Linked DNA regions of Homo sapiens: region 2 is linked to region 1. Evidence: fine-mapped expression QTL. A gene starts in region 1. The other region holds a variant in brackets. All regions are shown on one strand. Distances are between the middles of the regions.

Region 1 (2,905 bases):
TTTTCTTGCTTTTTTTTTTTTTTTAACGAATACTATTCCCAATTCACCTAACTAAAATTTGATGTTAGTAAACTACAACCTACGGGGCACATATAAACTCCACACACTGAAGCAATGGCTGTACTCGTCAAAGATGTATGCAGTTGGTACTCAAATAATGTAGTTTTTTTTTTACTAGACTCTTTTTAAAATTTAACTTTAATTTTTGCTAAAGTAATGTTTGTATTTGGAATATAAAATAATTCTATGAGGCTTATAACAACAAACTATCGTCCTTGGCCCTACTCCTCTTCATAGGGAGCCAGACTGAATTTTAAAAGGCATATCTTCCAAAATTTCTCTCTCCATTTCTTAAGAAACATGCTTATACTACCATTTTCAGTTTTTTTTTTTCTTTTGAAACAGAGTCTCCCTCTGTCGCCTAGGCTGCAGTGCAGTGGCGTGATCTCCCCTCGCTGCAACCTCCGCCTCCTGGGTTCAAGCGATTCTCGTGCCTCAGCCTCCCGAGTAGCTGGAATTACAGGTGCCTACCACCATGCCCAGCTAATCTTTGTATTTTCAGTAGAGACGGGGTTTCGCCATCTTGGCCAGGCTGGTCTCGAACTCCTGACCTCAGGTGATTCGCCCAAAGTGCTGGGGCTATAGGCGTGAGCCACCTGCCCGGCTATTTTCAGTTTTGGATAGTATGTTTTGACATACACTCTGTTTCCTCTTTGAGACACCCGCTCTAGAGCCCTCTATTCCACTCCAAGCCGCCTGGATGCTCTCTTGGCCTGCTTACAGATTCCACTCTGTTTAGGAAGAAGGACGGCACGTTTATCCAATTATTCTTCCTGGACACGAATACTCCTCTCCCCAGAGATCAGTAACTGCCCACAATCTTGTTAGGAAGCCCCACAGCACCTAAGGGTACGAATGTCCCCAAAGAGTAGACGATTCTCTCCCTACTCACGTCTCCACTAGTGCAAGGCTGGCTTTCTTACCCTTAGAGGAATACAGAAATGACATCGTCTGCAGGCCAACGTCTAAACAACCAGGAGTGGGTTTTTCCACCCAACCGCAGTGCACGCAAAGCCCCTAAGCCGACTGTGAGACCGGGCGGAGCCTGGCGCTGCAGGAAGAGGCGACAGCCACAGCCCTACTGACGAGCCCGAGGGGTGAACTCCCCGGCGGGAGGCCCGAACCCTCAAACACCGGGAAGCGGAGGTGGGGGCCGGCTGGGGGACCGGTCCACCGGCTCCCACCTCGGCGTACAGGGATTCCAGGTCCCGGCGAGCGCTGGCCTAGCGGTTTCCACAGCGACAGGCCGGGCGCGCGTCCCCGCGCGTGCGCAGCTCCTCGCCCGCCCCCGGGTGGGCGGAGCAAGGAACAGCTGGGCGGGGACGACCGCCCCACGCCGCGCGGGAACCCTTGGGGGCCGGGGCTGCAGGCAGCTGGGAACCGCGGGCGCTAGGCGCGCGCACCCAGCACTCGGTCCCAGCCGATAAATCTGGGGCAGCGCGCGGTAGGAGCTGCGGGCGGCCAGGCCCCTTCCTGCGTCCGCACCTGGCCCCGCGCGCCCCTCTCGGGCGTCCGGCTTCCGGCGTCCTGGCGGCTCGGGTGGCGGCGGTTCGGGCGGCCGCCTGGCTGCTCCTCGGGGCGGCGACCGGGCTCACGCGCGGGCCCGCCGCGGCCTTCACCGCCGCGCGCTCTGACGCCGGTAAGGGGGGCGGGGCTTGGGGGGCCAGAGCGTGGGAGCGGTCCCGGCTCCCGGGCCTCTCGGCGGGTTGCGGGGATGTGGGGACCCGGCGCGGGACCTAGATCAGTAGGGCGAGCCGGAGGAGGTCAGACACTAGAGCCGTGTGCCCTCCTTCCCTCCCGTGCGCTTTGCTCTGCGGCGGATCCCGGGTCTCCGGGAGAGTCGGGCTCGGGCCCTGCGGTTCCCAGGCTGGACTGGCCGCCCTGTTACTAAAGTTCTGAGAAGGAAAGTCAGCCGTCAAGCGTCTTGGGATGCTCTTGAGCTGCACGAAGCTTCTGATCACCAAGGGGCCAGGCAAGGCCTTAGCGCCCTGTGAGGCCTGAGAATCCCCAAACTGAATGTAGGACTCCGTGGCAAACTGCTAGTTGTTCGTGCAAGTAGTAGTTGGCAAACTGCTTGTACTACTGAGACGGGCAAGTGCGGGAATAATTACAATAAAGGGTAAGGTTTGATGGGAGGAAAGCACAAACCCTACAAGTTTCTCCATCTGTAAAATGAGGATGTTTCTGTCATCCTTGGTATCATTTAGATCCGTTTAGTATCTGTCAATCAGTGCAGTTCTGCTTGTGTGTTTACATATTGGGTTTTCAAGTTTATCTAAACAAAGGATTATGAGGCCAAGAAGATTTTTTTTTTGAGATGGAGTCTCACTCTGTTGCCAGGCTGGAGTGCAATGGCGCGATCTCGGCTCACTGCAACCTCCGCCTTTCCCAAGTTCAAGCAATTCTTCTGCTTCAGCCTCCCAAGTAGCTGGGATTATTACAGGTGCCCGCCACCATGCCCAGCTAATTTTTTGTATTTTTAGTAGAGACGGGGTTTCGCCGTATTGGTCAAGCTGGTCTTGAACTCCTGACCTCAGGTGGTCCACCCTCCTCAGCCTCCCAAAGTGCCAGGATTACAGGTGTGAACTACCATGCTCGGCCAGAAGAATTTTTAAACAGTTGGATTTGGTAATCTGTAGAGGCTTCCAACGTTAGCATTTTATAATTGAAAAGGGGTCAAAATTAGCGGGGCGTGATGGCGTGCCCCTGTAGTCCCAGCTACTCAGGGGGCTAAGGCAGGAGAATCGCTTGAACTAGGGAGGCGGAGGTTGCAGTGAGCCGAGATCGCGCCATTGCACTCCAGCCTGGGTGACAGAGGGAGACTCTGTCTCAAAAAAAAAAAAAA
Region 2 (2,905 bases), 23 kb before region 1:
CACGCCCGGCTAAATTTTGTATTTTTAGTAGAGATGGGGTTTCTACATGTTGGTTAGGCTGGTCTCAAACTCCTGCCCTCAGGTGATCCGCCCGCCTCGGCCTCCCAAAGTCCTGGGATCACAGGTGTGAGCCACTGCACCTGGCCTCATTCAAGAGTTTTTACTGATATATTTTTTAAATCAAAGAATTATAATATACTATTTGGCAACTTGTTTTCCTCACTTAACCATGTAGCTAGGAGTTATTTCCAGGTCACTATGCCCAGTGCTACCTTCTTCTGCCTAAGGGTTTCATAGTATGCCGCAGCATGGACACTGCGCAATTCACTTAACCAATGTCTTATTGATGGATATTTGGAGTGTTTCCAGTTTTCGATATTTGGAGTGTTTCCAGTTTTCCACGATCATATTCGCTTTTTGCACATTCTTTTCTCTTTATAATTCAGAACCATCAAGCTGAAGCCCAGCAGGGCTTCCTCATTTCATCATCATAGCTCATTTCCTATTGAGCAAAGCTTCTTCCTCGGGTCAGCTCTTGCCACACTTCTTTCTACAGAAACAAGAAGTGGAGTTATCTGTCCTGGGCTTCGGGAGTGAACACACCCATTCCCACGCTGCTGCTGCCCACGCTGCTTTGCCCACACAGCACCACTGTCCCTGGGGATCCTGAATAACAATCTGCTGAGCAAAATCAACATCCCTTTGGCTACAGCGAGGCTAATTGCACTTAATAGGTTGTAAGAGTTCTGGTACAGACAGGCTCCTTCCCATGATGTATTTCACCACCTCATTGAAGAGATGTGTGTTCCAGTGAGAGTCTGTTCCTCCGTGTCATCCCAACAAATGCTCCTATGTCCAGGAGCCATTGTCAGGAATGCTCGTTCCTCTCCCTTCTACACAGACAAATCTCCCTTTGAGGACACACTCAACTCCAACTCCTTTTGTGAAGCTTTCCCTGTTGCTCCAGCCTGCATGAATCCTTCCCTCCGCCGAATTTCTTCAGCAAGAATGCCTTCTAGGCCAGGCACGGTGGCTCATGCCTGTAATCCCAGCACTTTGGGAGGCCGAGGCGGGCAGATCACCTGAGGTCGGGAGTTCGAGACCAGCCTGACCAACATGGAGAAACCCTGTCTCTACTAAAATACAAAATTAGCTGGGTGTGGTGGTGTGTGCCTATAATCCTAGCTACTCAGGAGGCTGAGGCAGGAGAATCACTTGAACC[C/G]GGGAGGCGGAGGCGGAGGTTGTGGTGAGCTGAGATGGCGCCACTGCACTCCAGCCTGGGCAACAAGAGCGAAACTCCATCTGAAAAAAAAAAAAAAAAAAAAAAAAAGAATGCCTTCTAAGTGCATAGCACCTGTGTGAGGGTGAAACCCTGGCCCACAGAGCCAGTGGTCGTAGGATAGTTAAAATAGAAGGCCACAGTATATTGGGAGGCCAAGGCGGGCGGATCACGAGGTCAGGAGATCGAGACCATCCTGGCTAACATGGTGAAACCCCGTCTCTACTAAAAATACAAGAAATTAGCCGGGCGTGGTGGCGGGCGCCTGTAGTCCCAGCTACTCGGGAGGCTGAGGCAGGAGAATGGCGTGAACCTGGGAGGCGGGGCTTGCAGTGAGCAGAGATCGTGCCACTGCACTCCAGCCTGGGCGACAGAGCAAGACTCCGTCTCAAAAAAAAAAAAAAAAAGGCCATAGTATATCAGAATTCCATAGAAATAAGATTATTACAAAAAGCCTATAAGCAGAGAGACACTGGAATATACTGAAGCTAGTATGAGCAAAAGGGAATTGTGGGTTGGAACACCAATACCCACAGCAACAGTGAAGGAAAGCAAAAGCCTCGCACAGCGCTTCTCAAAGTGTGGTCTGGGGGCTTGTTAGAAATGCAATTTCTTGGCCAGGCGCAGTGGCTCACACCTGTAATCCCAGCACTTTGGGAGGCCAAGGCAGGCGGATCACCTGAGGTCAGGAGTTCAAGACCAGCCTGGCCAACACGGCAAAACCCTGTCCCTACTAAAAATATAAAAATTAGCCAGGCGTGGTGGCACACGTCTGTAATCCCAGCTACTCAGGAGGCTGAGACAGGATAATTGCTTAAACCTGGGAGGTGGGAGTTGCAGTGAGCTGAGATTGCGCCACTGCACTCCAGGCTGGGTGACAAGAGCGAGACTCTATCTCAAACAAATTAAAAAAAGAAAAAGGAAAATAAATGCAAATTCTTAGGCTCCACCCCAGACTTACTGAATCAGAAATTCTGGGGGTGGAACGCAGCAATCTGCGCTATCGTGAGTCCCACAGATGAGTCTGGTGCATGCTGAAGTCTAAGAACCACTAGCTTGAGTAGAGATTCAAAGTTTGGGTCTCTAGCACAGAAAGACTTTTGCAACAACGAGTCTCGGGAGGCGTAAAGCAAGCAGAGAGGACTGCAGCTGTTAAAAGTAGTCCTAAGAAGATTCTAGGTAGGAGAACTCAAGCGTGGGGAGCTGGGAAACCCCAGCTGGCAGGGAGGGGTCCTACCTGGCGAGCTGCCCCCCAAGGGCCTGCGCTGGTCAAGTGTCTCCCGAAGGGTCTGCCTGCGGGCAGGAGAAACACAGGTGTCCAGGACTAGTGTTCTGACTGATACGTGGCCCTAGGATTTCTCTCCTGGGACCACTTGGAGAGGCAACCCTTGGCTGCCAGAGGAAGAGACTGATGGAGGCAGCAGGACGGGAGGAAGGCCTGTGGGAGGAGGGTGCCAGAGTGGGAAGGGAGCATGTGAGGAGAGTCTTGATGGTTAATGCCAATTACCTCTAGAAAATTACCAGGCTTTACAGACTCAAGAGCTACTACCCAAAAGATTGAAAAAACTGCCTTAAAAAAAAAAAAAGCAACCCACCCCAGGGAAGAGAGAGAGCTATTTAGAAAAC

Evidence for each region.
Region 2: its variant is fine-mapped to the expression of CEP19 in whole blood (TOPMed, PIP above 0.99).

What each region holds. Positions count from the first base shown.
Region 1 is chr3:196,710,946-196,713,850 of GRCh38, forward strand. It overlaps CEP19 (centrosomal protein 19), which reads right to left and starts at 1,305. Exons shown (of 3, transcript NM_032898.5): 1 at 984-1,305. PIGX (phosphatidylinositol glycan anchor biosynthesis class X) reads left to right here and starts at 1,432. Exons shown (of 6, transcript NM_017861.4): 1 at 1,432-1,699. The coding sequence starts at 1,588. RefSeq lists silencers at 1,055-1,367, 1,202-1,831.
Region 2 is chr3:196,687,922-196,690,826 of GRCh38, forward strand. No RefSeq gene overlaps it. Among named protein-coding and RNA genes, the nearest start is that of CEP19, 23 kb to the right of the region's middle. The variant C/G (reference allele first, on the strand shown) is at 1,223.